Homo sapiens: one gene and its partners. The protein of the gene in region 1 interacts with the protein of each later gene in a pairwise test. Each region holds a gene or a part of one and is shown in the gene's direction. Other genes may lie near its edges.

What was found. The genes of interacting proteins can lie anywhere in the genome.
Region 2: the proteins of ALAS1 (region 1) and TTC23 interact in binary tests that used the Homo sapiens proteins (3 or more experiments, as listed by UniProt).
Region 3: the proteins of ALAS1 (region 1) and USP20 interact in binary tests that used the Homo sapiens proteins (3 or more experiments, as listed by UniProt).

The regions. Positions count from the first base shown.
Region 1 is NC_000003.12:52,208,160-52,215,296, forward strand, and holds the end of ALAS1 (5-aminolevulinate synthase, non-specific, mitochondrial isoform 1 precursor), read left to right. Parts: coding exon 1-88; intron 89-3,123; coding exon 3,124-3,392; intron 3,393-4,098; coding exon 4,099-4,261; intron 4,262-5,849; coding exon of another isoform or gene 5,850-5,860; coding exon 5,861-6,021; 3' UTR 6,022-6,168; downstream 6,169-7,137.
Region 2 is NC_000015.10:99,218,366-99,225,834, reverse strand, and holds part of TTC23 (tetratricopeptide repeat protein 23), read left to right. Parts: intron 1-288; exon of another isoform or gene 289-451; intron 452-3,970; coding exon 3,971-4,094; intron 4,095-6,786; coding exon 6,787-6,937; intron 6,938-7,121; coding exon 7,122-7,247; intron 7,248-7,469. UniProt on the Homo sapiens protein: Participates positively in the ciliary Hedgehog (Hh) signaling.
Region 3 is NC_000009.12:129,859,205-129,866,673, forward strand, and holds part of USP20 (ubiquitin carboxyl-terminal hydrolase 20), read left to right. Parts: intron 1-1,732; coding exon 1,733-1,829; intron 1,830-2,338; coding exon 2,339-2,408; intron 2,409-3,981; coding exon 3,982-4,095; intron 4,096-6,098; coding exon 6,099-6,177; intron 6,178-7,469.

The DNA.
Region 1 (7,137 bases):
GCAGTGGGGCTTTATGGGGCTCGAGGCGGAGGGATTGGGGATCGGGATGGAGTCATGCCAAAAATGGACATCATTTCTGGAACACTTGGTATGTATACATTGTATTACATACACTAAAATTCCATTATCCTAACAAGGCCAAGGACTAACTAGTCTAACTGGGATCAGGTGAGGAGACAGCCTGACAGCATATGAAGCCTGGGCCACTCTTTCTTTTGGCCCAGCTTAGTGGAATCCCTTGGGTCATGGAGGCATGGCTCTTAGAATCAAAGTAAATCCCACAGCCTAACACACTGATAGACCATTTATTGCTATCTGAGCTCATTTCAGACATAGTTGTGGGTCTAGCCCCATGCCATGGCAAGAGCCTGTACTCTCTGTGCCTCAGGCTGTTCTTAATTAAAAAGAAAAAGGAATTCTAGTACTTTTCTCCTGGAGCACTTGTTAGGTTCAGGTGTTGTGAAGTGCTGAACTCCGTGCCTGCCACGTGGGAACATTCTAATTCATCCTGGTTTTCCTCTGCTCTTCCTCATACAGAGGCTATGTCTCGTGGTAGATGGGAGCTAGACTTTGGAGCCCTGCCACCTCACTAGTTGTGTGACCTTGAGTTGGTAGTTAACCTTTCTATACCTCAGTTTCATCATCAATATAATGGAGAAAACAATAGGACCTAAATCAAAATATATGTGGAGAAGGTAAATAAGTTGTATGCAAACAGTTATTATAAACATTCCCTCTGAGAACCTATGAGAACCCTAAAGAGACGAAAATTACATAAATTTGAAGAATTTTTGTAATTTTGAAGAATTTTTTTAAGCCTTCAGAAGTGGGTAAGGCAGTTGGAAACCCATCTAGCAGTTAGCTAAAATGCCAGTTTATAGCCTATGCTTGGTAAAGGAAGGGCAGGCTTTTTAAAAAGCGTCCTTCAGCACTGTCAAGGGGTATGAGAACCTAGTGCAGACCCAGAAAGCCTGGGAGTTCTAAGGGTGGAACCACTACCAGGAGAAAAACACCTGATCATGTGTCTTAATTCAAGAAGCTCTTTTCTTTTTTTTCTTTTTTTTCCGAGATGGAGTGTCACTCTGTTGCCCAGGCTGGAGTGCAGTGGCGCGATCTCAGCTCACTGCAAGCTCCACCTCCCAGGTTCATGCCATTCTACTGCCTCAGCCTCCCAAGTAGCTGGGACTACAGGCACCCGCCACCATGCCTGGCTAATTTTTTGTATTTGTAGTAGAGACGGGGTTTCACCGTGTTAGCCAGAATGTTCTCAATCTCCTGACCACGTGATCTGCCCGCCTCAGCCTCCCAAAGTGCTGGGATTACAGGCGTGAGCCACCACACCCGGCCAGAAGCTCTTTTCTTTTAAGGATGTCTCCTGATGTGGGCTCTTTGAAGGTATGGTCATTGTGAGATGGAAAAGGCTGGAGAGAGAAACTTTATACCATAGGAGATTGAACCAACCCAGCTTTGCATGTGGTTTTAGCAAAAACATTAATTATAGAATGTTATGTTAAGATCTATGAAGACTCTTCTGGAGTTCTTTTTGTTTTTTGAGACAGGCTCTCACTCTGTGCCCAGGTGTGATCACAGCTCATCTGCAGCCTCCACCTCCTGGGCTCAAGTGATCCTCCCACCTCAACCTCCTGAATAACTGAGACTACAGGTGTGCGCTAGCATGCCTGGCTAATTTTTGTATTTTTAGTAGAAACGGGGTTTCACCATGTTGGCCAGGCTGGTCTCTAACTCCTGAGCTCAAGTGATTTGCCCCCCTCGGCCTCCCAAAGTTCTGGGACTATAGGTGTGAGCCACTGCACCTGGCCTCTTCTGGAGTTTTTAATCCTGAAACTTGAGATGTAGATCACACAAAAGGACTCAATGAGAATTGAAAACCAAGTCTGGCCCTAAATCAATCCTAATGCATTAATTGTCAAGAGTTTTGTTCTTAAGTAGGAAATAACACCAGTCATACCAAAACAGTTAATGCCTTAGCTGGGTAAAATTCCAGCCTCTGGGATAATGTTCCCTGTGGGAGGATGGTACAAGCACTGCAGAGCCAGTCTTGTTCCAAAGAGCACATGCAGTGCAGACATGGGGAGTGGAGCTGTGCTGGCTGTCAGAGCAGCAAGCCTGGGTGAGAAAGGGAAAGGAGAATAAGATGGTGGGAAGGGAGGCAGCAGCAGGGTATTTGGGCACACTGGGACCAGTCACTGAGGTGTCAGGTCTGATTGGAAGACCTGCATTTTGATCCTGGTTAGACACCAGCTTGGCCATATGACTTTGGGCAAGACCCTTTTGTAACTTTCCTTAGCTTTTTTACCCTTTTAAAAGTGAGTAGCCAGGCACGATAGCTCACACCTGAATCCCAGCACTTTGGGAGGCTGAGACAGGAGGATCACTTGAACCCAGGAGTTTGAGACCAGCCCTGGGCAACGAAGCATGGCCTCCTCTCTACACAAAATAAAAATTTAAAAAATCAGCCAGGCATGGTGGTGTACACCTGTCCTAGCTACTTGGGAGGCTGAGGCGGAAGGAATACTTGAGCCCAGGAGGTTGAGGCTGCAGAGAGCTATGATCATGCCACTGCACTCCAGCCTGGGTGACAGAGCAAGACCCTGTCTCTAAAAAAAAAAGGAAGATTAGATATCCTTTTATAGTCATGCATTGCTTAACGATGGGGGATGTGTTCTGAGAATTGCATCACTAGGCGATTTCATCATTGTGCAAACACCATAGAGTGTACTTACATAAACCTAGATTATATAGCCTACCGCACACCTAGGCTTTGTGGTATGGCGTGTTGCTCCTAGGCTGCAAACCTGTACAACATGTTACTGTATTGGATACTGTTGGCAACACCATGGTATTTGTGTATCTAAACATACCTAAACATAGAAAAGGTACAGTAAAAATACAGTATTATAATCTTATGGGACCACCATCATATATGTGGTCGTCATTGACTGAGACATCATTAATGTGGTGCATGACTACTCCAATCAGTCCAGGAACAAATTAAAAAGATAAGGAGAAAAGTCAGTGCTTTGAGGCTCCACAACACCTTGCTGTGTCCATTTAGAGCAATTTACAGCTGTTGCTGTAATTAATGAAGCTATCTCCTCCCAGGCAAAGCCTTTGGTTGTGTTGGAGGGTACATCGCCAGCACGAGTTCTCTGATTGACACCGTACGGTCCTATGCTGCTGGCTTCATCTTCACCACCTCTCTGCCACCCATGCTGCTGGCTGGAGCCCTGGAGTCTGTGCGGATCCTGAAGAGCGCTGAGGGACGGGTGCTTCGCCGCCAGCACCAGCGCAACGTCAAACTCATGAGACAGATGCTAATGGATGCCGGCCTCCCTGTTGTCCACTGCCCCAGCCACATCATCCCTGTGCGGGTAATGGCCTGTCTCTGATTGGACTTGCCGTGGGGTGTGCCTCTACACATGATGTACGGATGTTCTGCTTCATACCTTCCTGAAGTTGGGCTTGAGCGGGGTGACTGCCAGGGCAGGGGTTGTAGCCAGCCACCCTCTGTCATGTTTCCGCCATTGGCTGACTTCACCAAGAGAAGAAAGCCTTTGAACCCAGCAGGCTGGGGCAGAAGTTCCCTCTCCGGAGCACTGACCTTAACAGGGTAAACACAGAGCTTGTATCTAGAAAGCTCCAGAAGCCTGAGCTTGGCCAGCTTTGAAGTATGGCTTTCTACTTAGTAAATTTCAAAATAGGTTTTGCCCTTCCCACTACAAATGGTAGCACTGTTGATGTCACAGTTGAATTAGTGTAATGAATACAGCTAGTATAACTGAATCTAGATTATACATCGTGGGTATGAGAGTCTGCTGGTACGAACAGAACCAGTGTTTTCTGATTAAAAATGTATTTCTTTTTAATAAGGTTTTGGTTCCCTGGTGTTCACGAAACAACACTGGCTTCTTTTAAATGACAGGTGTTTGGGCAGCGCTTTCCCTCTGCCCCAAGCTTGCATGTGTTGCTACAGTCTGGTCTTGAGCCTGAGCGTTGTGGGGACTGCGTTCGTTAGGATCTCTGCTAAGAGGTAGTCCTTCCTGTTGTGACCTTACCTTCTGCTCTCATTGAACTTAGGTTGCAGATGCTGCTAAAAACACAGAAGTCTGTGATGAACTAATGAGCAGACATAACATCTACGTGCAAGCAATCAATTACCCTACGGTGCCCCGGGGAGAAGAGCTCCTACGGATTGCCCCCACCCCTCACCACACACCCCAGATGATGAACTACTTCCTTGGTGAGTACCTGGGGAGCTGCTGGTGCCTCACTGAGGAGTTGCATAAAGCTGTCTTTGCAGTGTTTATAATTGAAGCCCTTCAGAGGCATTCAGATTTGTTTCTTCTTCTTTTTTTAGTTTTTTTTTTGAGACAAGAGTTTCGCTCTTGTTGCCCAGGCTGGAGTACAATGGCACAATCTCGGCTCACCGCAACCCCTGCCTCCCAGGTTCAAGCGATTCTCCTGCCTCAGCTTCCTGAGTAGCTGGGATTACAGCCATGCGCCACCACGCCTGGCTGATTTTGTATTTTTAGTAGAGATGGGGTTTCTCCATGTTGGTCAGGCTGGTCTCGAACTCCCGACCTCAGGTGATCCACCCACCTCAGCCTTCCAAAGTGCTGGGATTACAGGTGTGAGCCCTGGTGCCCGGCCTGTTTCTTCTTTTTCCAAGTAACTAAGCATGCCCTCAAATGGTTCAAAACCCTAAAAGGTATTTATTGTCTGATTCACATCAAGAGGGTGGAGAGTCATTTTGGGAGCTCTGAGGGAGCCTGGGAATCCGCTCAGTGTTTCCAGTGCCCCCTTGTCTACGTGGCTGAAGGATGCACAGTAATGACTTGCAGGGAGAAGAGGCCTCTGAAGGCTTGAGTCCCCGCTGTCCCTCCGGAGTCCACCTCACATTTGTCTTCACCACTGCCCTCTACTCCATGATGTTGTATAATCCTTGAATAACCCCACACCTAATCGCCTCTGATAAGAGGAATTGCTCAATATTTTCAACTGCCCCGTGGTTCTATACTGCTCCACCCATGTCCAACCTAAAGGCAGAGATGGAAGGGGGCTATTAGCCACAGGTCACCTCTGCCTCGAAGGTACATTGCCTTCCCAAGCCCGCCCAGCGTGGCTCAGCTTCCTCACAGGCTCTCTGTTCTGTTGGAAATGCTGGGTTTAAACTGTCACGTGGCAGTGTTGGAGCAGCTTCTTCCCTACAGGCCTGTGAAATCAAGCCCAACTCTGGGTTTTATTTTTCTCTTTATTTATTTTTATAAAAGCCTTAAAATTTTTATAAAAGCCTTATCTCAGTAGAGATATAGCTCACTTACCATAAAATTCACCCTTTTAAAGTATCCAAGTCTATGATTTTTAAGTACACTCCCAGTGTTATGCAACCATCACTTCTATCTGATTCTAGAACATTTTCATCACCTCAGAAGCCCCTACCCATTAGGAGTCACTCCTCTTTTCCCCATCCCCAGCCCCTGTCAACCACGGCTCTTTCTGTCTCTATGGATTTGCCTTTTCTGGACCTTGTGTCTAAGTGGAATCATACCGCCTGTGCTCCTTTGTGTCTGCCTTCTTCCAGCATCATGTCTGCAAGGCTCATCCATGCTGTAGCATTCATCAGCACTTCATTTCTTTCTGTTACCAAATAACCTTCCATTGTACAGATTTACCACATTTTGTTTATCCGTCTATTGGTGGACATTTGGTTGTTTCTCTTGTTAACTATTATGAATAATGCTGCTATGAACATTTGTGTACAAGTTTTTGTGTGGACATATGTTTTCATTTCTCTTGTGTATATTACTCCCTTTAATATTTAAAAACTGTTTCTCCTCAGAGAATCTGCTAGTCACATGGAAGCAAGTGGGGCTGGAACTGAAGCCTCATTCCTCAGCTGAGTGCAACTTCTGCAGGAGGCCACTGCATTTTGAAGTGATGAGTGAAAGAGAGAAGTCCTATTTCTCAGGCTTGAGCAAGTTGGTATCTGCTCAGGCCTGAGCATGACCTCAATTATTTCACTTAACCCCAGGCCATTATCATATCCAGATGGTCTTCAGAGTTGTCTTTATATGTGAATTAAGTTATATTAAATTTTAATCTATAGTAAAAACATAGTCCTGGAAATAAATTCTTGCTTAAATGGTGGTTCTTTCTGCTATTGGCTACTGGATAACATTCTTCATTGGCTAGACACAGTGGCTAACACCTGTAATCACAACACTTGGGAGGCCAAAGCAAGAGGATCACTTTAGGCCAGGAGTTTGAAGCTGCAGTGAGCCATGATTGCTCCACTGCACTCCGGCCTGGGTGACAGAGCAAGACTGCCTCTGAAATAAAAAATAATAATTGTCATCATCCCTTTAAGTTCAGTCTGTATTCTAGGAATGAATAAACTGAATGAAGTACTGGAGCTCTGGTAATGGCTTCAGAGGAGGAGCAGCAGAACCTCCCACTGCTTGAGCCCTGCTACCTCCTTAATGCCTACTGTATCCAGTGGCTGACCCAGCCGCACCCGGCAACTGAACAGTTTTGAAAGAGTGACACCACCTTGGCGGCCGGTTTCACTTTAAACTTCTCACTTCACATCTTCAATGGACAGTCAGTGCTGCCCAGCAGTCCTGCTACAGCTGCCTCCCCCTGACTTTCCCTTTCAGCTACTGCCTTGACCCCATTCTTCCCTGTGAAAGTCTGGGCGTCAGAAGACTGGCTTGTCTGTCACCACCCTGTCCTCCAGCCTGTCAGCTTCCTGCACCTGTAGTTGTGTCCCATCCAGCAAAGGCAGAGGGGTTTGTGCTCCTCATCCTGCCTCTCTCCGTTTGTATTTCAGGTCCTGTTGTTTCTTGCATGGTCCTGCAGCCATCTCTTTGCTGCAGAATTTCTCCCCCTCTGCTGGTTCATTCTCCTTGGCCTGCAGAGGCTTTGTCCCCCTTCTGAAAAATAAGCTCTCTCTGTCCAGACCCCCTTCTTGCTGCCCCTGCCCCTCTGTGCTGCCCCTGTTCTAAGCAGTTGCCCTTTCATCCCTGTTCTCTAGGAAGGCTGCTCGTCTCTCACATCTGTCTCTATCTTGCCAAGTCCGGTGGCCAGTTCTGTCTTCCTTTGGTGGATCTCAGTGGT
Region 2 (7,469 bases), on another chromosome or scaffold:
ATTGCCATTTTTCCCTTTGTAATTAATAAGTATTTTGTGGGTAGATTCACTGAGACTATGTATATATTTAAAACTTCACTCTGCCACCTGAATCAGTTATTACTATGATGTTTGTCACATAGCCAGTCTCTGACTTCCACATTATTTCAACATTTGTTTGTTGGCATTCTATTATAAGGAAGAGCTTTTCTTTCTTCACAGCTTATTTATCATTCATTTATTCCTATCAGTATGGGTTCAGGAAATTGTATTTTTCAAATACACTACAACCTGTTATTTTCATGGAAGCTCGGATTGTTCCGTATCTGCCAGTGAGAGACCCTTCCAGCTGGCTCCTGAGTCCTCAATGCATCCCCTTACGGTTTAACCACTTCCTGGCGCTACCACTTGCTGGTAAATCATCTCGACTTTCCAGCCTTAGACTCCTTCATCTTTAAACTGAGGGGACCAGGTGAGATGATTTCCAAGGTTCCTCCCAGTTTTGAAATTGCCTTCCTACTTCGTGCTTGTCTTCTGTCTGCCCCTTACTGATGCCTATTGCTAAAGTCACTGGAACTGGTAGAATAAAGGTTGGAAAACCAATAGGGATATTTGGACCATGCCTTGTAACAAATAAGGACGTGAAGGAAGGACAAGCTGTTTCTTGTATACCTCTATCCCTACTCAGGTCCTGAGAACCAAGGCTATTATCAGGGAAGCCCAACTCAGCCTGCACCGTCCTCTTCGCTGGAAATCTGTAGTTGGGACAGATTCACTATCAAAACAGATCTACCTCTCTTTTTGTCTGTCTGGATTCCATGATGTTGTCATCATTTCCGTGTCTTTCATACACTGTAGTTGTTGTTCTCTTTCTCTCTCTCCAAAGTAGTCATTCCCTAAACTTCCTGTGTCTAGAGGCAATAAAAAGGTGATTCCCAAAAGAAGTACAAACAGCCAGTTAACACATGAAGATGCTCAGCCTCATCAATTTGGGAGAAAAATGTGGACTAAATCAAGGAGAAATGGGCTAACTGACAAACTGACAAACTAAAAACCAAACAAAAACTCCACAATTTGTACTCAGTTCAACGTAAGGGGCATTTCTGCTCACATGTGCTGCGCTGAAAGTATGAACTGGTACAACCTCTGGGAGAGGCACTTCAATAGCTACTCACAGCCTCAGAATTTTGCATATCCTTTATACAGCAATCCCATTTGTGGGAATTTGTTTTGTGGAAATGTTTATGGGTATGTGCAAAGCTATCCATACAGGATATTCAGTGAGTAAGAAATTTACAAACAGCTAAATGCCCAATAAAGAGTGGATTGAGTAATGCAGTTATGATATAGTCATATAATAAAATACTGTGCAGCCATTCAAACTTATATCATAGAAGATGACATGAGAAGTTATTCGTAAATTGTTAAAACAGCAGCTGTAAACCTGCATGTAGTTTATGAACCTATTTTTGAAAAAGAAAAAATATATAAAGATAGATTCACAAAAATAAAGAATAAAGGGATATTTATCTACCTAGATATCTCTAGGCGGTAAACTTACAGGTGATTTTTAGTTTTTATCTTTTTGCTTATCTGTATTTTGACAATGAGCATACATTATTTTTGTAGTAAGAAACGTTACTGTAGAAAAGAATATGACAGTCCACCTTCTTTCAGCACTTTATGGTGAGCATGTATTCCTTAGCTTCCTCCTGCTAGGTCACAAAAGTGACTCTCCTTTGGCCAACTGTCTGGCTGTGTATTTTTGTCAAGAAAAATGTTGTTTTAGGGTGAAGGTATTTCCAATGCATGTAGGAATTGTGTGGAAATGCAAGCCCTTTGAGCTTTGACATTGATGGGCGTGCATCCTAGGTGTATCCTGGATCTTCTTCACAACTCTGTCCTTGTTCTTACCTTTCTTCCTCTGCTTTGACCCCTTCAGCTTTCTTTCTTCAGCCATCTCTCTTGCTGTTCTGACTATCTGTTGCTGCATGACACCCCAATAACTTAGTGGCTTAAAACCAAAACAGCCATTCATTTTTCTCATGAGCCTGCGGTTTTTGCAGAGCTCAGTGGGGTTTGCTCAGCTTTGCTCCGCACAGCATCAGCTGGTCTTGAAGGGTCTGGAGAATCTGCTGCCAAAATGGTTCACTCAAACTATCAGGCCTTTCTATGTGGGTCTTCTCTCCATGGGGCCATGTTGGCTTCCTCACAGCACTGTGGTTGGATTCTGTATTAGTCTGTGGTGCTGTCCTAACAAAATTCCACAGATGCTGTGGCTTAAAGAACAGAGTTTATTTCCTCACAGTTCTGGAGGCTGGAAGTCCAAGACCAAGGTGTGAGCAGGGCTTGATTTCATTCTAAAGCCCTCTCTCCTTAGTTTGTAGATGACTGCCCTCTTGCTGTGTTCTCACATGGTCATTTCTCCATATGCATGCCCATCCCTGGTGTCTTTTCCTCTTCATATATAAGGATACCAGCTGTATTGGACTAGGGTCCACCCTAACACCTCCTTCGAACTTAAATCACCTCTTTAAAGACCTCATCTTCAAAAACAGTTACATTATAAGGTGCTGGGGATTGGGACTTAAATATATGAATTCAGGGAGGTTGGGGAGGAGACACAGTTCAGCCCATAACAGGTTTCAAGAGTGAGTACCCAAGAAGAGACAGAAAGCAAAGCCACCAGTTCCTTTAGACTGTGGCCTGAAAACTGGCACTGTATCATTTCCTCCACGTTCTATTGGCCAAACAGTCATAAAGCCCAGATTCAAAGGGAATGGGACATAGACCCCCATCTCTGAATGGAAGGAGTATCAAATAATTTTGGAGCTGAGGTTTTGTTTGTTTGTTTGTTTTGAGACGGAGTCTCGCTGTGTCGCCCAGGCTGGAATGCAGTGGCACGATATCGGCTCACTGCAAGCTCCGCCTCCCGGGTTCACACCATTCTCCTGCCCCAGCCTCCCGAGTAGCTGGGACTACGGGCGGCCGCCACCATGCCTGGCTAATTTTTTGTATTTTTAGTAGAGATGGGGTTTCACCATGTTAGCCAGGATGGTCTCGATCTCTTGACCTTGTGATTCACCCATCTCCGCCTCCCAAAGTGCTGGGATTACAGGTTTGAGCCACCACGCCCAGCCTGGAACCGTGTTTTAAAACTGCCAGCTCTGCTTTGAGGATATGGCTGCTCTGAGATCACCTGGAGCTGGGAATCCAGTTTTCTGTTCTTTTTGTCCTATCCCTGAATGAAACTGTGCTTCTTGCTGCTTTAATCAAGTCTGTAAGTCCTGCTGATCTCATTTGCTATGCTAGTGCAGATGGCTAAGGAAAGTTTTGAATTGAGAGCTAAACTATAGTATTTGACAGCCTGGGCAACATGGCAAAATCCCATCTCTACCAAAAATACAAAAAACTAGCCAGGTGTGGTGGTGCACACCTGTGGTCCCAGCTGCTCAGGAGGCTGAGGTGGGAGGATTGCTCGAGCCCCCTGGAGGTCGAGGCTACAGTGAGCTGATATCGTGCCATTGTACTCCAGCCTGGGTGACTCCAGGTGAGTGAGACCCTGTCTCATACACACACACACATACACACACACACAAAGTGTACTATTTGAAAACACTACCATTTGCCCCTGTTGTGCCTGCATATGTAGTAGCTGTTCATTGGTGGGCAGCTGGGAAACCTAGAGAATGACTAGATGTCTGCTCTACTTTTTCTATTTTTTAAATTCTATTTCTTTTTTTCACCCTTAAATGTACTATAAATTGTACTTCTTATGTTTATTGTCTGTTTCATCTTACCAGATGTACATGCTACCACCCCAAATAGATCTTTGTCTGTTTTGTTCTCTGATACATCTCAAGTGCTTAGAACAATGTTTTGCACATAGTAGTCACTCAGTATTTATCAAAGGGATATAAAAGCGCATTGATTTTGTGTTTTGTGACTCTTAAGTTGTATAACTGGTAAGCCTGTTTTCTCTTCCTAACAGTACAAACAGGCCGTCCATGAGCTTGTGCGTTGCGTAGCACTGACAAGAATTTGCTATGGAGACTCACATTGGAAACTAGCAGAGGCACATGTTAATCTGGCTCAAGGCTACCTCCAGCTGAAAGGTAAGCTCGCCTTAGACTGAGGGGGATCAGTTGGTCGATTTCTGCTGTTCTCCCCAAAATTTGATTCACACTTAATTAGAAGGATCAGGTTTTTTAATATTCTCCTTTCTAAATACCAAGAAGCCATTTCTTTTTAGAAAGAGTTGATAAGGTATATAACCTGTAAACATTCAAAGGGGAAAAATGGAAAAAATATTTTAACTTTTCTGGTTTTTTTGTTTTTGTTTTTGTTTTTATGATTTCAAAAGTAAGGTTCTTAGGAGAAAATTAATCTGTTGGGCCAGAAGACTTTGTAGGAAAAAACCCAAGGTATGGAATAGGGGCCCAGAATGGGATCCATTCACACTTTTATTGGAGAATCTCTTGACTGTAAATAACCAAAAAATTTAAAAAGACTAACCCAAATTGGCATAAACAAAAGTTTTTGGCTCATACAACTTAAAAATTCAAGGGAAAAAATTTTTAGACTTAGCCATATCCAGTGTTCAAACAATGTGACCAGGATTCAATTTTTCTCTCTCCCACTGCTTGGCTCTGTTTTTCTTGGTATTTGCTCCATTCTTTGCCAGGTTTTGCCCACATGGTGGCAACAAGACTGCCTGCAACTTTAGACTTCCCTTATAAGCATTCCCAGGAGGAAAAGAATGTCCCTCCACCAAAATCCCGGGATTTGGGAAGGGTTCTAATTGGAACAACTTGGGTTGTATACCAAAGGCAAGGAATAGTCTGATTGGCTAAACCTTTCTTTTGGCTTCATTGGATCCTGAAGGAGAAGCAGGCCTTCGCCACATCTCATGGATTGGATGTGCAGGAGCCAGGCATCCCAAAAGGGAAACAGAGGGGAGAATGCGTGCAGGGGAGGCAAAAACAATAGACACCCAGGATATGATGATGGCTTCTACTTACTGACTGTGCAGCCTAAGACAAGATGGACAAGAGCATCTCTGTGCTCAGCTTCTTCAGCTGAAAAGTGATGATGATGGTAATGGTGATGCTAACTTTCCAGGGTTGGCCCAGTGAATAAAGAAAATAATAGAAGTGGAAAACACCAAATGCCAAGCATATTCTATACCAAGCGTATTCATTATTGCCACCCAATAAATTTGGCCAAATCTGATTATAGACTGGTCCTACCTATTAGATCAAAGGCTCTTAGGGACCTTGGAGATTATCTAATTTAAACTCTGCCCTCCCACCCCATTTTGTAGATTCAGGGAAAACAATGAGTCTGAGTTAGAACAGCTTTCCCCATACCACACTGTTAATAAGTAGCTGATCTGAGACTCAGACCTAGGTTTTCAATGCCAGTTTGTCCTGCCATCTGGGGTTTCAGACGATGCTTTTCTTATACAGCCTGCTGCCTCTCTGCGTGACAGTCCTTCTTTCTCAATTTAAAGTAAAAGTAGTATCTACCATTTATTAAAGTCTCATTTGGTGCCAGGCATGTTGTTTTCCATGCATAACCTTATTCAGTCCTCACCACAGTCCTCAAAGGTGGGTATTTTTAATATCCCTGTTTACAGCTGAGAAAGCTGAGGCCAACGTTTTATAATAAGTGGTGGAGCAGGGGATCCATCCTGGGCAGTCTGACTTCAGAGCCAATGTTCTTGAACTTCACCCTATGCTGCCTCCAGTAAATTGAGTTCAGGTTCCTTCAGGGACTCGACACAGTTGAAAATACAGTCCAACATGCTTTGTGTAACATCACAAGCACAGGTGGCACTAATACATGTCTGTGCTTTTTAAAAATATGTAATAAGACAATCTTGTGTAAGAATTCCCACATGAAACACATACCCTTGATTTTCTCCATTAGAAAATATATTCTTCCTGTTTTATAGACATAGGAACAGAATTAACTTCATATTTTGACAGATTTTTTTAGAGATCTAAGATACAATTTTGTGTAACTAAGAACATAAGATGGGGGCTGTGTGTATGTGAGTGGAAGTGGTTGTCGGTGTAGGGGAGGAGGATGGGAATACAGGGACGTGCAAAGCCCTGAAGCCGTGCTAGCGATCTCAGTCCTCCCTTCCCACAGATTAACAAGCCCGTGGAGGAACACTGGAACACACTGGGGAATTCTTTCTTAGTAGTGATTTTTTTTTGCTCCACTTTGTTTCATATTAGTCTCTTACCACATAGGAAGATGAAATTGTCACACATTAATCTGTTACCTCACTGGAATTGTGTTTGTAAGTTTTTGTAGATATCAGATATGTATTATGTTAAAAAAATAACTCTCTGACATTATGATTATAGGTGGGTGAGCTGAAGATTCAGAATTTTTAGTATTTCATTAAGATTGCAGTTACACAGCCAGGATTAAAATTCATGAATATTTTATTTCCTGCTCAGAATGCTATAGTTCTTGTATTCAGTTTGTTTCTTATAATTATATGTAACATATTTTGCTTCTGCTATTGGTGAGGTTTCAAAGCTGTTCAATTCCAGCTCATTTTGTTTATTTCTAAAAAGGCCATTTGGGGGAAAATTTATCTTGGGTACTTGGTATAAAACACTTCTTTGGTTGTTACAGTCATGGCAGTGTTTCATGCTGCCCAGATACGTCTCCATGTGTCATTTGACAATATGTGAAGGAGACCTTGTTAGATTCCCAGACCATAAGGAACTGTATTCCTGTCCAGTTGAGATGATAGAGAAACTGAGACCTCTTTTTCTTTGTCCACAGGACTGTCACTGCAAGCAAAACAACATGCAGAAAAAGCCAGACAAATCCTCGCCAACTCCATTGTGCCTCCCTATAGTGAGAATACAGATGTTTTCAAGTTTTCCATTGAGCTTTTCCATACCATGGGCAGAGCTTTACTCTCCCTTCAAAAGTATCCTTTTGCCTCTAACTTTTACAAATAGAAATACTATTCACGTAACACTTACACGCCAAGTAAAAAGCTGATGCTGATGGATGACTTAGGAAGTGTGATTGGAAGTATGGGAGCCAAGGAAGTTCAGGACATGGGGTGTAGAATCTAGAACCAAGTGGAAAATTTCCTGAACACAATTCAGATTTAAGGAAGCTGCAGAGAATTTGACAAAAGCAGAGAGACTTTCAAAGGAGCTGCTACAATGTGGAAGAATTATAAAGGAAGAATGGATAGAAATTGAAGCACGGATCAGATTATCATTTGCACAGTAAGTTTCAAGTTTAGGATTTTGCATACATGATGGCGGGAGGCTCTTTGCCTGTAGAATCTGTCTCAGGTAGGAGGAGCATCTCCATGAGGCTGCGGCCATGGCTTCTCTGGAGGTCACTGTGTAAAAGTAAAAGAGGAACACAGTCATGTCAGAGCAGCCCCAACCAGGGCATCCATCAGTGACACTTTTCACTCTCTGTGGAGTGCCCTGGGTCCCAGA
Region 3 (7,469 bases), on another chromosome or scaffold:
TAGAGGAGAAGCCAGGACATGTGTGCAGCATCTGCATGGCTCTCTCCTCCATTTATTTTATTTTATTTTATTTTATTTTAATTTTTTGAGACCGAGTCTCGCTCTGTTGCTCAGGCTGGAATGCAGTGGTGCAATCTCATCTCACTACAACCTCTGCCTCCTGGGTTCAACTGATTGTCCTGCCTCAACCTCCTGAGTAGCTGGGATTACAGGCGCCCACGACCATGCCTGGCTAATTTTCATATTTTTAGTAGAGTCAGGGTTTTGCCATGTTGACTAGGCTGGTCTTGAACTCCTGACCTCAAGTGATCCGCCTGCCTTGGCCTCCCAAAGTGCTGGGATTACAGGCAGGAGCCACCGCACCTGGCCTCTCCTTCTGTTTAGACAGTCACATGATAGGGCTCAATATTGCTCAAAATGCTTATTGAATGCATTTGTGAACTTGGTAGATATTTATGAATTTTTATAGAAAAGGCTATAAAACAGTATATGCAATATCTTGTTTTTGTTGTGCATGTGTATTAACAGTTAAAAGTCTGTATAATACAGGCTGGGCGCCATGGCTAATGCCTGTAATCCCAGCCCTTTGCTGGGCCAAGGCAGGAGGATCGCTTGAGCCCAGGAGTTTGAGACCAGCCTGGGCAACAGCGTGAGACCCTGTCTCTACAAAAAATAAAATTAGCTAGGCATGGTGGCGCATGCTTGTAATCCCAGCTACTTGGGAGGCTGAGGTGGGAGGATCACTTGAGCCCGGGAGTTCAAGGTTGCAGTGAGCTATAGTTGTGCTACTGCACTCCAGCCTGGGCGACGAGCAAGACTCTATCTCTTAAAAAAAGTCCACATAGCCCAGGCGCGGTGGCTCATTCCTGTAATCCCAGCACTTTGGGAGGCCGAGGCGGGCAGATCACGAGGTCAGGAGATCGAGACCATCCTGGCTAACACGGTGAAACCCCGTCTCTACTAAAAATACAAAAAATTAGTCAGGCATAGTAGCGGGCACCTGTAGTCCCAGCTAGTCAGGAGGCTGAGGCAGGAGAATGGCATGAACCTGGGAGGCGGAGCTTGCAGTGAGCCAAGATTGCACCATTGCACTCCAGCCTGGGCAACAGAGCGAGACTCTGTCTCAAAAAGAAAAAAAAAAACGTCTACATAAGATACATACAGACTATTAACAGCAGTTCTCTCAGGAAAATGGGGTTGCATGTTTATGTTTCTATTTTTCTCCAAATTTATTATAAATAAAATATTTTTTTTATTGCCAATAAAAAAATGCAAGTCAACATCTGGACACAGTGGCTCATGTTATCCTAACACTTTGGGAGGATCACTGGAGCCCAGTAGTTTGAGACCAGCCTGGGCAATATAAAAAGGTTAGCTGGGTGCTGTGCATGCACCTGTAGTCTCAGCTACTGAGAAGGGCGAGGTGGGAGGATCCCTTGAGCCCAGAAGTTGGAGTCAGCAGTGAGCTCTGATTGTGCCACTGCACTCCAGCCTGGGTGACAAAGCAAGACCCTGTCTCTAAAAAAACACAGACACACACAAATCAAGGAGTTCCCAGGGCAAGGCCACCAATCCTATCTCTTTTCACAGTACCTTCTGCTCAGCTGGACTGGCTCAGCCCAGTAGGGCCTTCCGGGCAGTAGGGCTGGACTTCCAGCCCTTGGGAGACACCTGGGCCTCTGACCCCAGCCCCTCTGTTCACTGTTTTCCTCACTTTGGGTCTTTAACACAGGACTCCCCGCCACCCTCCCACCCTCTGAAAGCTGTTCCTATTGCTGTGGCTGATGAAGGAGAGTCTGAGTCAGAGGACGATGACCTGAAACCTCGAGGTAATGGCCCCCACAGCAGGGGAAGCTGATGGGCTGGGCTGGGGGCCCTCATCTGGAGGCTGGAAACCGCCAGAGTCTTGGTCTCTATTTGCACCTGCTATATGGGCAAGGAAGGATGGGGTGACGGATAAGCTGTTTAGCATGGTGGCTTCACCCCAGAAGTTGGCTGGCCTAGCTAAGGTTCTGGAGAGCTGGCTATCTTGTCCCCTCTCCCAGCTGGGTGACCCTGGGCAGGCCGACCCCTCTGCTGTATGGTCTGGACAGTGGGCCTGGCTGGGCGGAGGGGCAAAGGAGTTCATCTGTTTAAAACACTCAGGTAACCGCAGCTGTTGTGAGCAGGAACCACGTTAGTTTACTGGGAAGATTCCTGGGGTGGAACGCTTCCACCATGTCCTCTTCTTGGGTCTTGGGCAGTTGAGAGCCACACCTTTGTGCCAAATGTGACTTGCAAGGTTTCCTCGGTGGGGCAGGGTGCTCACCTGCTCCTCCCCGTTGTGTTTATTTCCCAGGCCTCACGGGCATGAAGAACCTCGGGAACTCCTGCTACATGAACGCTGCCCTGCAGGCCCTGTCCAATTGGTAGGTCGACACTTTGTCCGAGGGCCGAGAGCTGTCCCTGGCAAAGCCCCGGAAACAGCAGCAGTAGCAGCCCCCAGCCGGTTGCCCACAAACACATGTATAGGATGCACAGCAAAATGCCTGAAAGCATGTATACCCTTTGACCCAGCAATCCTCCCAGTCAGAATGTATCCTGAGGAGATAACCGGAGATGCTGGGGAAGTTGTACGTGCAAGGAGGCTCAGTGCTCTGTTGTTTACTGGAAATGATTTAAAGGCCCATCTGCAAGAGAGTATAAATTCTCATAGCCCTTGCAGCAAGTGCAGGAAAAATGGCACAAGACAACATGCATTGAAACAAGAAGGGGTTCAGAATCTGGTGAGTGGGGGAAAAAGGAGGTTATAAAGCATTGCATGGTACAATCCCGTTTTATGGGAGAAATGCGATTTTCCATTAAGGATAAGGCTGTGAGCTCCATGAGGCCAAGGATGTCTCCTGTGTCTGACGTGCTTCTCCTACCCAGTGGAGGTTAGAGATGCAGTATATGTATGCGGGAAGCAGAGAGGGAATGGGTACAAATGCGTAGAAAAGTCTGGAAGGCTATGTCCCAAAATGTTCCTAGTAACTATCCTCAGGTGGCAGGATGCAGGTCAATTATTGTTAATAATTGACCACACCCAGGCTGGGCGCAGTAGCCCACGCCTGTAATCCCAGCACTTTGGTAGGCCGAGGCAGATGGATCACCAGGTCAGGAGATAGAGACCATTCTGGCTAACATGGTGAAACCCTGTCTCTACTAAAAATACAAAAAACTAGCTGGACGTGGTGGCACGCACCTGTAGTCCCAGCTACTGGGGAGGCTGAGGCAGGAGAATCGCTTGAACCCGGGAGGCGGAGGTTGCAGTGAGCTGAGATCATGCCATTGCATTCCAGCCTGGGTGACAGAGCGAGACTCCGTCTCAAAAAAAAAAAGAAAAATTGACCGCACCCAATCCGTTTTAACTTTAATAACCTCTTTAAAGGCCCTGTCTTGGCTGGGCACCGTGGCTTACGCCTGTAATCCCAGCACTTTGGGAGGTCAAGGCAAGTGGATCGCCTGAGGTCAGGAGTTCAAGACCAGCCTGGCCAACTAGTAGAGCCTGTCTCTACTAAAAATACAAAAAAATTAGCCAGGCATTGTGGCATGTGCCTGTAATCCCAGCTACTCGGGAGGCTAAGGCAGGAGAAGCACTTGAACCCGGGAGGCAGAGGTTGCAATGAACCAAGATTGCACCACTGGACTCCAGCCTGGGCAACAGAGGGAGACTCTGTTTCAAAATAATAATAATAATAATAAAAAAATAAGGTAAGATAGATAAGATGAGATAAAATAAAAATGCCCTGTCTCTGGGAGTTAGGGCTTCGCAGATGAATTTTGGAGGATACAATTTTCTCATAACTGGTAGGAGCCTTCTAGTCACCTTCAGGAGTTTCTGGGTCCAGGGCCACTGTGCTCCCTGTGCGAGCACTCAGGGCTCCCCGCTATGCAGCCCTTTCTAAACTGCCGCATGCCTCATTTGCTCTCCTGACCTGGCTCTCTCTCCCCTGCACCCAGCCCGCCGCTGACTCAGTTCTTCTTGGAGTGTGGCGGCCTGGTGCGCACAGATAAGAAGCCAGCCCTGTGCAAGAGCTACCAGAAGCTGGTCTCTGAGGTCTGGCATAAGAAACGGTGAGCAGCTGCATCCCTAGCCTTGGGCGGTGTGTGGGGACTGGGGTTTCCTGTCAGCACCCATGATTGAGTACTTCCTGTGGATTCAGCCCCCAGCGAGGACTTGCCTCACTTTGTCCCGGGTAATGCTTGCAGCAAGCCTGCGGGGTGGAAATTGCATCCAGTCCTGTTTTACAAATAGGGAAACTGAGGTGCAGAGCACTTTAAGTATCTTGCTCAAGGTCATAGAACCTGCAAAAAGTGAGCTAGAATTTGACCTACTGTTGACCCTACCGAGCAGCCACTGGTAGATGTCTTTGCCAAGAGACATGGTGACCCGGCCTCAGCCAGGACTGTGTGTGTAGAAGGAGGTGTGGGGCAGGGGAGCACAGACTGGATGGAGCTTCTGGCACAGTATGAAATTAATTTAAAGATCAGAGTCTGTGATTAGATCTGTTTCTCCAGGAAAAGTCAAAGTTGGGAATAATTTTAAATGAGCACATAGAAATATGTATTATGTGTAGAAGCGGATGAAAAACCAGCGTAGGGCCAGGCGCAGTGGCTCACGCCTGTAATCCCTGCACTTTGAGAGGCTGAGGCAGGTGGATCACGAGGTCAAGAGATCGAGACCGTTCTGGCCAACATGGTGAAACCCCGTGTCTAATAAAAATACAAAAATTAGCTGGGTGTGGTGGCGTGTGCCTGTAGTCCCAGCTACTCGGGAGGCTGAGGCAGGAGAATCACTTGAACCTGGGAGGCGGAGGTGGCAGTGAGCCGAGATCGCACCACTGCACTCCAGCCTGTTGACAAAGCGAGACTCTGTCTCAAAAAAAAAAAAACAAAAACAAAACAAACCAGCATGGGAGAAATATGTATTAAATGTAGAAGCAGATTAAAAACCAGCGTGGGGCCAGATGCAGTCACTGACACCTGTAAATCCAGCACTTTGGGAGGCCGAGGCAGGAGAATCATTTGAGCCTAGGAGTTTGAGACCGGCCTGGACAACACAGCAAGACCCCGCCTCTACAAAAACTACAAAATTAGCTGAGTGTGGTGTGAGCACTTGTGGTCCCAGCTACTCAGGAGGCTGAGGTGGGAGGATCGCTTGAGTCCAGGAAGTTGAGGCAGGCTGCAGTGAGCTTGATCATGCCATTGCACTTCAGCCTGGGCGACAGAGTGAGACCCTGTCTCAAAAAAAAAAAAAAAAAAAAAAAAGTCTGTGTGCAGTGGCTCACTCCTGTAATCCCAGTACTTTGGGAGGCCGAGGCGGGTGGATCGCAAGGTCAGGAGTTCGAGACCAGCCTGGCCAATGTGGTGAAACCCCGTCTCTACTAAAAATACAAAAATTAGCTGGGCATGGTGGCGCGCACCTGTATTCCCAGCACTTTGGGAGGCTGAGACAGGAGAATCACTTGAACTCGGGAGGCGGAGGTTGCAGCAAGCCAAGATCATGCCACTGCACTCTAGCCTGGGAAACAGAGCAAGACTCTGTCCCAAAAAAAAAAAAAAAAAAACCCAGCATGGTACAATATAATTCCGCTTGTGTAAGAAGCCAAGTTTAAATGTGTATCTGTATGTATTTTTGTATATGCATCTGTAGTTTCACAGAACCAGAAATCTAATGGTAAGTATCTGGTGCCATTGGTGGTGGTGTTTTTCTCTTGTACTTTTCTGAAATTTTAGATTTGTCAATAATGAACATGTCTTACTTTTGAAATGAGAAAACCACAGTAAGTGTTTCAGAATGAAAACAAATCATGTTTAGGCGAGTTTGTTGTGCACCAGAAGGAAATGATGCTATTTTATTTGAGCTCTTTGCTTAATTGAGGCAGCTATGACTTGACATTTTCTTCTTGTCTGTAGAGATGTGTGAGCCTCTTGGGGCTCCTGGCTGAGTAGGCCCCTCCCCAAATGTCAGGAAACGCCACACTCTGATCCAGCCTGACGGGCTGGCTGCCTGCTTCTCTCGGGAATGAGCAGCTCAAGGCAGGCTACCTGGACTAATGGGTTTGGGCTTCCTACAGGCCAAGCTACGTGGTCCCCACCAGTCTGTCTCATGGGATCAAGTTGGTCAACCCAATGTTCCGAGGCTATGCCCAGCAGGTAAGCCATCTGAGCTGCCCAGGGGACACCCAAGGCCATGACCCACCAGGCCTGACTTTGACGCCAAAACCAGAGTGGAAAATCGCAATGGCAGCTGAGCACTGGTTGGCAGGTCTCACGGACCAGGCTCTCACTCCTAAGCCCTTCACACGTGTGAGGACAGTGGAGCCTCCCAGCAACCTGCTGACATTTAACCCCACTTCACAGATGGACAGACTGAGGTTCAGGGGCCGAGCCACTTGCACAGGCCACACAGCTAGTAAATGGTGGAGGGGAATTCTTTTTTTTGTGGGGGAGGGTGGGTACAGGGTCTCACTCTGTCACCCAGGCTGGAGTGCAGTGGTGCAGTCATGGCTTACTGCACCCTCGACCTCCCGGGCTCAAGCAGTCGTCCCACCTCAGGCTCCGAAAGTGCTGTGATTATAGGCATGAGCCACTGCACCCGGCGGAGGGGAGATTTGAACCCAGGCAACCTTGCTGCAGGGCCTCCGCGTTGCACCCAAAATGACACAGGGTTTCATTTCCCCAAACCACAGGCAAAATTTCACTTTTATTAAAGTAAAAAGTTTGATTAAAAATTTTTTTTAAATCTAGAGAACCCTTTTGAAACCAATCACATTTTTCTATTTTATAAAATAATGAGACCAAGACAGAGTGCAGCCACGCGTACACCTCAGCCCCGGGCTGATGGCTCCTGCCCTCCAGCCTCCTGCCCCAGATGGCCCACAGCCTGGGCTTTCATGCCAGGCCTGCAGGCAGAGCTGGACCTGGCTGGGTCACCTCTTGTGCTGCCTGAAATGAGCACCATGGACGGAGTGGCAGTCATGTGGGGACAACTTCCGCCCTCTACCCCCTGCCTGCTGTCCCGTCCCAGGATGAAGTCTGCTGGGCCTTTGGCTCCTGCTTGAGAAGCTCAGCACTGCCTGGACACCTCTCTTTTTGGGGAGTGATAACATGCACAATGACTAAAATTCACTGAGCACCATTTAAGTGGTCACAACTTAGTCCTCATAGAAGTCTCACAAAGTGGGCACTGTTGTCACCCACACGTTACAGGTAAAGAGCTGAGGCTCAGAGAGGTTCTACCCCTCACCCAGGTCACACAGCACATCCTGGCAGAGATGGCATTCAGGCCTACCTGAGCCCATCCCTCAGCACAGCACCACCCTGACTGTGTGCAAGGCGCCCTGCCGGCTTTCAGCTCTGGGTCAGGATGCCGTTACGGAGGGCCATGCGCTGCGGCAGGACTCCATCTGGGCTCCGGCAGAAGCATCCCTTTCTGTGGTTTTAGG